Homo sapiens: one gene and its partner. The protein of the gene in region 1 purifies or fractionates together with the protein of each later gene. This does not show direct contact. Each region holds a gene or a part of one and is shown on either strand. Other genes may lie near its edges.

What was found.
Region 2: the proteins of GPR83 (region 1) and ACVR1B purify together in Homo sapiens (affinity purification with mass spectrometry; one large-scale study listed by BioGRID and IntAct). This does not show direct contact.

The regions. Positions count from the first base shown.
Region 1 is NC_000011.10:94,394,611-94,398,425, reverse strand, and holds part of GPR83 (G-protein coupled receptor 83 isoform 1 precursor), read left to right. Parts: intron 1-1,901; coding exon 1,902-2,027; intron 2,028-3,815. UniProt on the Homo sapiens protein: G-protein coupled receptor for PEN, a neuropeptide produced from the precursor protein, proSAAS (encoded by PCSK1N). Acts through a G(i)- and G(q)-alpha-alpha-mediated pathway in response to PEN. Plays a role in food intake and body weight regulation.
Region 2 is NC_000012.12:51,975,473-51,979,287, forward strand, and holds part of ACVR1B (activin receptor type-1B isoform a precursor), read left to right. Parts: coding exon 1-32; intron 33-854; coding exon 855-1,103; intron 1,104-3,815. UniProt on the Homo sapiens protein: Transmembrane serine/threonine kinase activin type-1 receptor forming an activin receptor complex with activin receptor type-2 (ACVR2A or ACVR2B).

The DNA of each region.
Region 1 (3,815 bases):
CAAAGTTCACTTTGTGTTGAGGGAACATTGAGTGGCTCAATGAAGCTGGAGCATCAGGAAGCACAGCGGAGGAGTGGGCAGGGGAGGGAGAAGCGGAGGTGGCCAGAAGGAAAGGCGGGGCCAGGTTGTGAAGGGGCCTGGATACTCTGTCCTGAGAGCCAGGATGATTCCAAACAGGAGGGTGACAACAATATGATTGTGGTTAGCAGAAATGCTGTCAGGAGTGTGAAGGCTGAATTCCAAGGTGACAAACCTGGAGAACTGGGAAAGCTGTTCAGAGGCTATAATAGTCCAAGGGAGAGATAATGGGGTACCCCACAAGGCCCATGGCCTTGGGACTGAAGAAGAGGGAACAGTTTTGAAAATCAGTGAGAGGCAGAACTGGTTGGATTTGGTAATCCCAATGTGAAGGGTGAGAAGTTGGAATAGCTGAAGATTTCTAGCTCTATAATGTTACTGAACTGCTCAAAAGCCTCAATGGCTCCTCCCTGTCCTCTGCAAAGAAAGTAACATCCCTGGTCTGTTGTCCTAGTTTCAAGATCTGGCCGGACTTGACATGACTCTTGTTCACACACTCCAGACAAGCCAATCCACTCCTTATTCCCCAAACAGGTCCTGGGATTTCTGATCCAGTGCCAATGCCTTTTGTCCTCATCTCCACATGTGCAAATCCCTCTTCAGTTCAAATGTCTCATATGTTGTAATAATGGCAGTTGATAGCGTTAAGTACTTGCTATGTACTAGGCACTGTTGTACCTACTTTACATGTGTTAACAATCTTGATTGATGTAACAACCATGTGAAAAGGGTTAGCCCATTTTACAGATGAGGAAAGTGGGGCTCAGAGGGCCCAATGCCTTGCCCAAGGTCACAGTGATCAGTGGCAAACACCCTGCTGTAAGTCACTACATTATACTCCTTCTCTTGGGCCAACTTGCCCTATTTCTATGCCTCTGTGCCTCTGCCCACTCCCATCCCTATGTGGTGGCCCCATTGCCCTTTAATCAGTCTCTACAGAGCACTGATTACTTTCTGTCTTGCACTTGAGTTGAGCCCGCCTCTGCCCTGGCTGCAAACTCCTTAATCAGAATCAATGCTCAATCTCTCTCAGGCATGGGACGTTACTCACAGGAGCTGCTCAAGTACTAATTGAATGAGTAAATAGTGCTGGGTGATGTGGGATAAGGACCGGGCCTGCTTCTAGGGCCCTACACGGTTTGGGGAGCTTGTCTTCTCTCCCCACACCTGTTCATACCTCTCCAGGTCCCTGGGTGTCCTCCCCAGATGATGACTTGCAAGGCCAGTTTAGCCAAGATTTGCCAGCACAGCCCACATGCTATGTTGTGACAATTCAGATATGTCTCCCCTACTAGAGTGAACTTGTGTGGACCAAGAATGAATTTTGTTATTGCACATAAAGATAGCTACTATTTACTTCTAATAATATCTGAACAATCTGCCAGACATTGTGTTTTGCCCTTTACAGACATTTAAAAAATTTAAACCTTATACTAAGCCTATAAGGAAGAGATTTTTTAGGGCTTTTTTTTTTTTTTGCAAATGAGGAAACAGATTCAGAGAGGTTACCTATCTTGCCCAAGCCCTCACAGTAAGAAACTATTAGAGGTGGGAAGTCCAACTCCATAGCACACATCCTTCCCAGGCTCTCCTGGCACCTAATGGAGCCTGGCCCAGAAGCATGATCAGGGTTTGTTGAATTGAATGAATGAAAATGAGTTGTGCTGGAGAAAATCATGTTTACTCCACAATTCAGTATCATAGACAGAAAGAAGGGAGGAGCTGGAGGAATCCCCCTAAGGGCATGCTCCTCAGAGACCTCTAGGGATGGGTGTCAAAGTCAAGGCCTGTCTGTCTCCTAACATCTTTGGGCTCATCTCCAGGTTCGCTTTGTGAACAGCACATGGATATTTGGGAAGGGCATGTGCCATGTCAGCCGCTTTGCCCAGTACTGCTCACTGCACGTCTCAGCACTGACACTGACAGCCATTGCGGTGGATCGCCACCAGGTGAGGGCACCTACCCCTAATGCTCTGCTCTTCCCTCTCTTGCTTCCCTTTCCTGGAAGTTGCAGGGGCTCTGAAGACAGTGTTTTAGCCCAGTTTTCAATGAGTGTGTTTCTCTTCTTATTGATCAACATGAACACATAGGTTAGGGATATTAAGCCCTTTGTCATAATTTTTTTTTGAGACAGAGTTTCACTCTTGTTGCTCAGGCTGGAGTGCAGTGGCACCATCTCGACTCACTGCAACCTCCGCCTCCTGGGTTCAAGCAAATCTCCTGCCTCAGCCTCCTGAGTAGCTGGGATTACAGGTGCTCGCCACCACGCCTGGCTAGTTTTCGTACTTTTAGTAGAGATAGGGTTTTGCCATGTCGGCCAGGCTGGTCTCGAACTCCTGACCTCAGGTGATCCACCCGCCTCAGCCTCCCAAAGTGCTGGAATTACAGACGTGAGCCACCATGCCCGGCCATTGCTGGCATTTTCTGTCTCAGAAATTAGTGAGCTTGTTTGAGGATAGAAAAGCAAACCCGGAAAATCACAGATGAAAGGAGAGAGGAGTAATTGCAGGTCAGAGATGAGTGAGAGATGAATATTCACCAATTCAGGCTGTTCAGACGGAAAACAAGCCAGGATGTCCAGGTGGCAGGAGCAGGCATTGCAGTGGAGCATGGTGGCCCTGGGTCAGGAAGATGTTCTAATAGTTCTGCCCCCATGGGAAGCTCATGGGTATATATGGTGAAAGGAACTGACCAGGACATCAAAGAAGGACAGCTTCATGCCAGGTGCCTTTTCCATGCTTACTCAATGAACTCACGTTGTACGCTTAGACCTACGCTGAATTATAGAATGGAGGCTCAGGAAAGTGCATATGTAGCTTTTCCGAGATCATGTGCCTGTGAATGGTGAAGCTAGGATTAGGACTGAGGTCTGTCTGGCTCCAAGCCCATGTTCCAGTCACTAGACCATGCTGCTCTGAGAAGACTCAAAGGAATCTACAAGGCCAGTATTATGAGGGCCACCAGACACAGAAAGATGAGATTTATTCTGAGTAGCACCATGAGATGCAGCAAGGACCACGGGATAGGAGGCTTCAAAGATGCAGATTCAAAGATACAGTCCAATGTGGGAAGAATTCTCTCATAGAAGTGTCTAAAGGTGGACAAACCTGCCTGGGAGGTAATGAGTTTCATGTCACCAGCCATATTAGAGCAAAGTGAGGATGACAACTTGATGGGGAGGTATTCGAGGAGATTCCAGCATCTGGTAAGGAATGGGACTAGTCAAAATTTGAGATCTCTTTATCTCTGAAATGCCAGAATTTTGTAAGAATCAATCTTAATTTATGTTGCAGATGCTTTAGTGTAAAGTGTGAAAAGTTTGCATATAAATATTTCCTGCCTTTTCTTAACCATCTCCCTTAATTTAACTAGAAGGACTTCTGATTACTTTTACCTGGCCTATGCTTACCCCAGATTAACGCAACTGAGCATTGACCATGGGCTAAGGATGGGTCTGGGGAGTGGGGGCAAAGCCTTGCTCATGTTGACCATGTTACTGCAACATATACCCCAACAAGGGGCTCTGTCCCAAGGCCAGCAGAGTCCTTGAGAAGTGCTTGGAGCCTCTGCCCCAGGCTGCCACTCCCTTCAGCAATCTGAACACAAGAGTATGAGGGGCAGAGATGGCTGAATCCAGAAGGGAGATGTGCTGTCAGCTTCTGAAGCCTCATTGCTTCCTCCCATAAAACCTTGAAAACATTGGGAGGAATTAAAAAAAAGCTCGAGACACAGCCAGA
Region 2 (3,815 bases), on another chromosome or scaffold:
CTGCAACAGGATCGACTTGAGGGTGCCCAGTGGTGAGTGCATGCCCTTGTTGGGCTAGTGGCTCAGCTTGGAGATAGGGTACCCCGTCATTTCATTTTTTTCTACTCTTGCCCACTCACTTGGTTTGACGATAAAGATGCCTTTTGGATGTTCCCGAAGGTGACAAAGGCTGGGGTTTCTCAGCAGTTGCTTTTGTAGATTAGAGGGTGAGGAAGCAGATTTTCAAGTTAGTCCCAGAGGTGCCCGCAGTGTTTAGAGTAGTGGCTTAGCAGCCATAGGCAGCGGTGAGGAGTGGAAGAACCAGGCAGGGATTCCCACGGGAGGATGTGGGACTGATCCAGAAAGAGATGGCCCCAGAGCCGAGCAAAGGTGACTCCTCAAGGGAGGATGATGGTTAGATGTGAGGAGGGACCAGAATAGGAAAAGGCCAGTGACCAAAGCCGAGAAACACCACATACCATCCTTTTGCAAGCCTACCATTCAGGAGGCATTACTGTGGAGCCCACAGGAAAAGGAGAGAAACTAAAGCAGAGCTTAGAGGAGCTGTGGGAAGTTAAAGGGCAGAAACAGGCATCTGTGTAGGGGCCTGAGGCGGGGATAGTACCACGAAATGCGTGAGGTGACAAAGTGGGTTGTGGGTTTGACTGTGGAAAGAGGTGCCTTAACTAAAGAAGTTGGGCATTTGAGAGCATCTAGGCAGCAAGACTAGCCCAGAAGATTAGAGAGATCAAGGGAGCCTGAACACATCGACAGGGAAAGGGGTCTTTTTCACTCTTCACTTTGAGGGGGGTGTTTTTACTCTTTCCCTTGTTTTTACTTCTCATTCTTTCCCTCTCCTCTCTCACTTGACTCAGGTCACCTCAAGGAGCCTGAGCACCCGTCCATGTGGGGCCCGGTGGAGCTGGTAGGCATCATCGCCGGCCCGGTGTTCCTCCTGTTCCTCATCATCATCATTGTTTTCCTTGTCATTAACTATCATCAGCGTGTCTATCACAACCGCCAGAGACTGGACATGGAAGATCCCTCATGTGAGATGTGTCTCTCCAAAGACAAGACGCTCCAGGATCTTGTCTACGATCTCTCCACCTCAGGGTCTGGCTCAGGTACCAAGTTCTTCAGGGCATCATGTCTGTGGTTGGCTTTCATCAGTTTCCCAGCAGGATAGAGTGCTTGTAGAGAAGGCTGGAGGCCCTGCATTTGTTTCTACCAGCATTGAGTCATTTGGTTTCCTAGTTCCCCTTCTTTTGGAGTCTGACGTGTAATAAGATAAGATAATGGGTTCACAGAAAATCTCTCATTCCGTGGGATTCCCAAGGTCTAGTACACAATTATCCACTACAGAAGTCCTGCCTCTCTAAGCTTTGCAACTGTACGTACATCTATTAAAATTCAGCTGGTCCCACCTGAGCAGTGGAGTGCTCAATTTCAGGGCCCCTTTTGAGAAACAGGAGTGTGCCAGATTCCTGTGAGGTGGTGACAGCTAATCATTGATCTCTGAGCAACCACAAGGGGAGTTTAAGGACATCCAGTAAAGCTTAGAGTTGGGATTTGGTGAATCATTGACTTGTACCAGTTGCCCAAGGGTTTTTGGTGGGGGTGAAAATAAAGGCAGTGTGGGCCTCCAGCATAGCATCAGCACTATTTCCTGTACTGCCTTTTGTTGACCAAGTCTTTCTCAGATGAGGGAAATGAACCAAACACTGGACCTTGGCATAAGACGAGAATTTAAGATAAAGGAGCTCGGGGTTGTTTAGGTCTCAGGGTATAGCTCAGCTAGCTATTAAATGTGAACATGAATGCAAAAGAATTTTTTTACTTACTTATTTATGTATTTATTTATTTAGAAACAGAGTCTTGCTCTGTTTCCCAGGCAGGAGTGCAGTGGCGCAATTTCCGCTCTCTGAAACCTCCACCTGCCTGGTTCAAGTGATTCTCCTGCCTCAGCCTCCTGAGTAGCTGGGATTACAGGAATGCGCCACCACAGCGACTAATTTTTGTATTTTTAGTAGAGACAAGGTTTCGCCACATCAGTCAGGCTGGTCTTGTGTTCTTGACCTCAAGTGATCCGCCTGCCTCGTAAAGAATTTTTTTAATGAAGATAAACCATTATTTTTGTGACAATGGTATTGCATTCCTTTTTTTTTTTTTTTTTTTTTGTTTTAAGATATGGTCTCGCTCTGTTGTTGCCCAGGCTGCAGTGCCATTGTGCAATCACAGCTGACTGCAGCCTTAACCTCCTGGGCTCAAGAGATCCTCCACCTTAGTCTCCTGAGTAGCTGAGATGTCAGGCATGTGCCACCAAGCCTGGCAATTTTTTTTTTTTTTTTTTTTTTTGTGGAAGGTTTCACTTTGTTGCCCAGGCTGGTCTCAAATTCTTGGCTTCAAGTCCATTCTTAAAAAAGAAAAAAAACATCCACAAAGATCACTGTTGCCATTCTAGCTAAAACGCAGAGGATCTTATTTGTGAGAACTTTGCGTGTTTTTATGTATGTTTCCTTGACGTGGGACAAGACTGTTGTTCTGTGGGGAAATTATGCCATCAGTCATGCCCAGACATTCTGCTTGACACGGGAGTACTTTGAGCTGTGACATCTCCTGAATTTCAGTGGCTTTGCTTTTATTAAGCTCTGCAGTAGAGAGCACCAAAATGATGGATATATTTAAAAGCTGCATATTTTTAGAAACAGCAAAAATCTAGGGCTTGTTCCTTGTTGAAAGAGGTAGGGCAGTGGTTAGAACCTCCTGGCTGACTGTGGGAATTGATTTGCTGCTAGAGGAGGGTAGATTGGGTTTTCCAAAGTCTTTTTAAGACCCAGACCAGCTGAAACAAGGGAAGGGCCATGGTAGTTGTTTAGTCGTCTGTGGTAAAATGGTTAATAACTATTTCCCTCTGAGTGGTTTAGTATATTCTTCATTCAGAATATGCAGAGCTTCCAAGGTGTTAGGTTTCTAATAATGTGGTTTTTAAAGTAGTAAGTCCATGCTGCTCATATGACTTTCAATTCATTTAAATAAGTATATACTGAATACCTTCTGGGTGATATGGTTTTAAACAGATTAGAAAGAGCCTGACCCGGCCAGGCGCGGTGGCTCACGCCTGTAATCCCAGCACTTTGGGAGGCTGAGGTGGGTGGATCATGAGGTCAGAGGAGATCCAGACCATCCTGGCTAACATGGTGAAACCCTGTCTCTACTAAAAATACAAAAAATTAGCCGGGCGTGGTGGCGGCGCCTGTAGTCCCAGGTACTCAAGAGGCTGAGGCAGGAGAATGGTGTGAACCTGGGAGGCGGAGCTTGCAGTGAGCCGAGATCACGCCACTGCACTCCAGCCTGGGCAACAGAGCGAGACTCCGTCTCAAAAAAAAAAAAAAAAAAAAGGCTGACCCAGGATTGGATCAGAGAGACAGGAATTGTTGGGAAGAGTCTCACAGAGGAGGGCACATTTAAAGGAGTCTTGAGGCCGGGCAGATCACATGAGGTCAAAAGTTTGAGACCAGCCTGACTAACATGGTGAAACCTCGTCTCTACTAAATACAAAAAATTAGCCGGGTGTAGTGGCACACGCCTATAATTCCAGCTACTTGGGAAGCTGAGGCAGGAGAATTGCTTGAACCCGGGAGGCAGAGGTTGCAGTGAGCCCAGATCATGCCATTGCACTCCAGCCTGGGCAGCAAGAGCAAAGCTCCGTCTCAAAAAAAAAAAAAAAAAAAAGGCCAGGCACGGTGGCTCACACCTGTAATCCCAGCACTTTGGGAGGCCGAGGCGGGTAGATCACCTCAGGTCAGGAGTTCGAGACCAGCCTGACCAACATGATG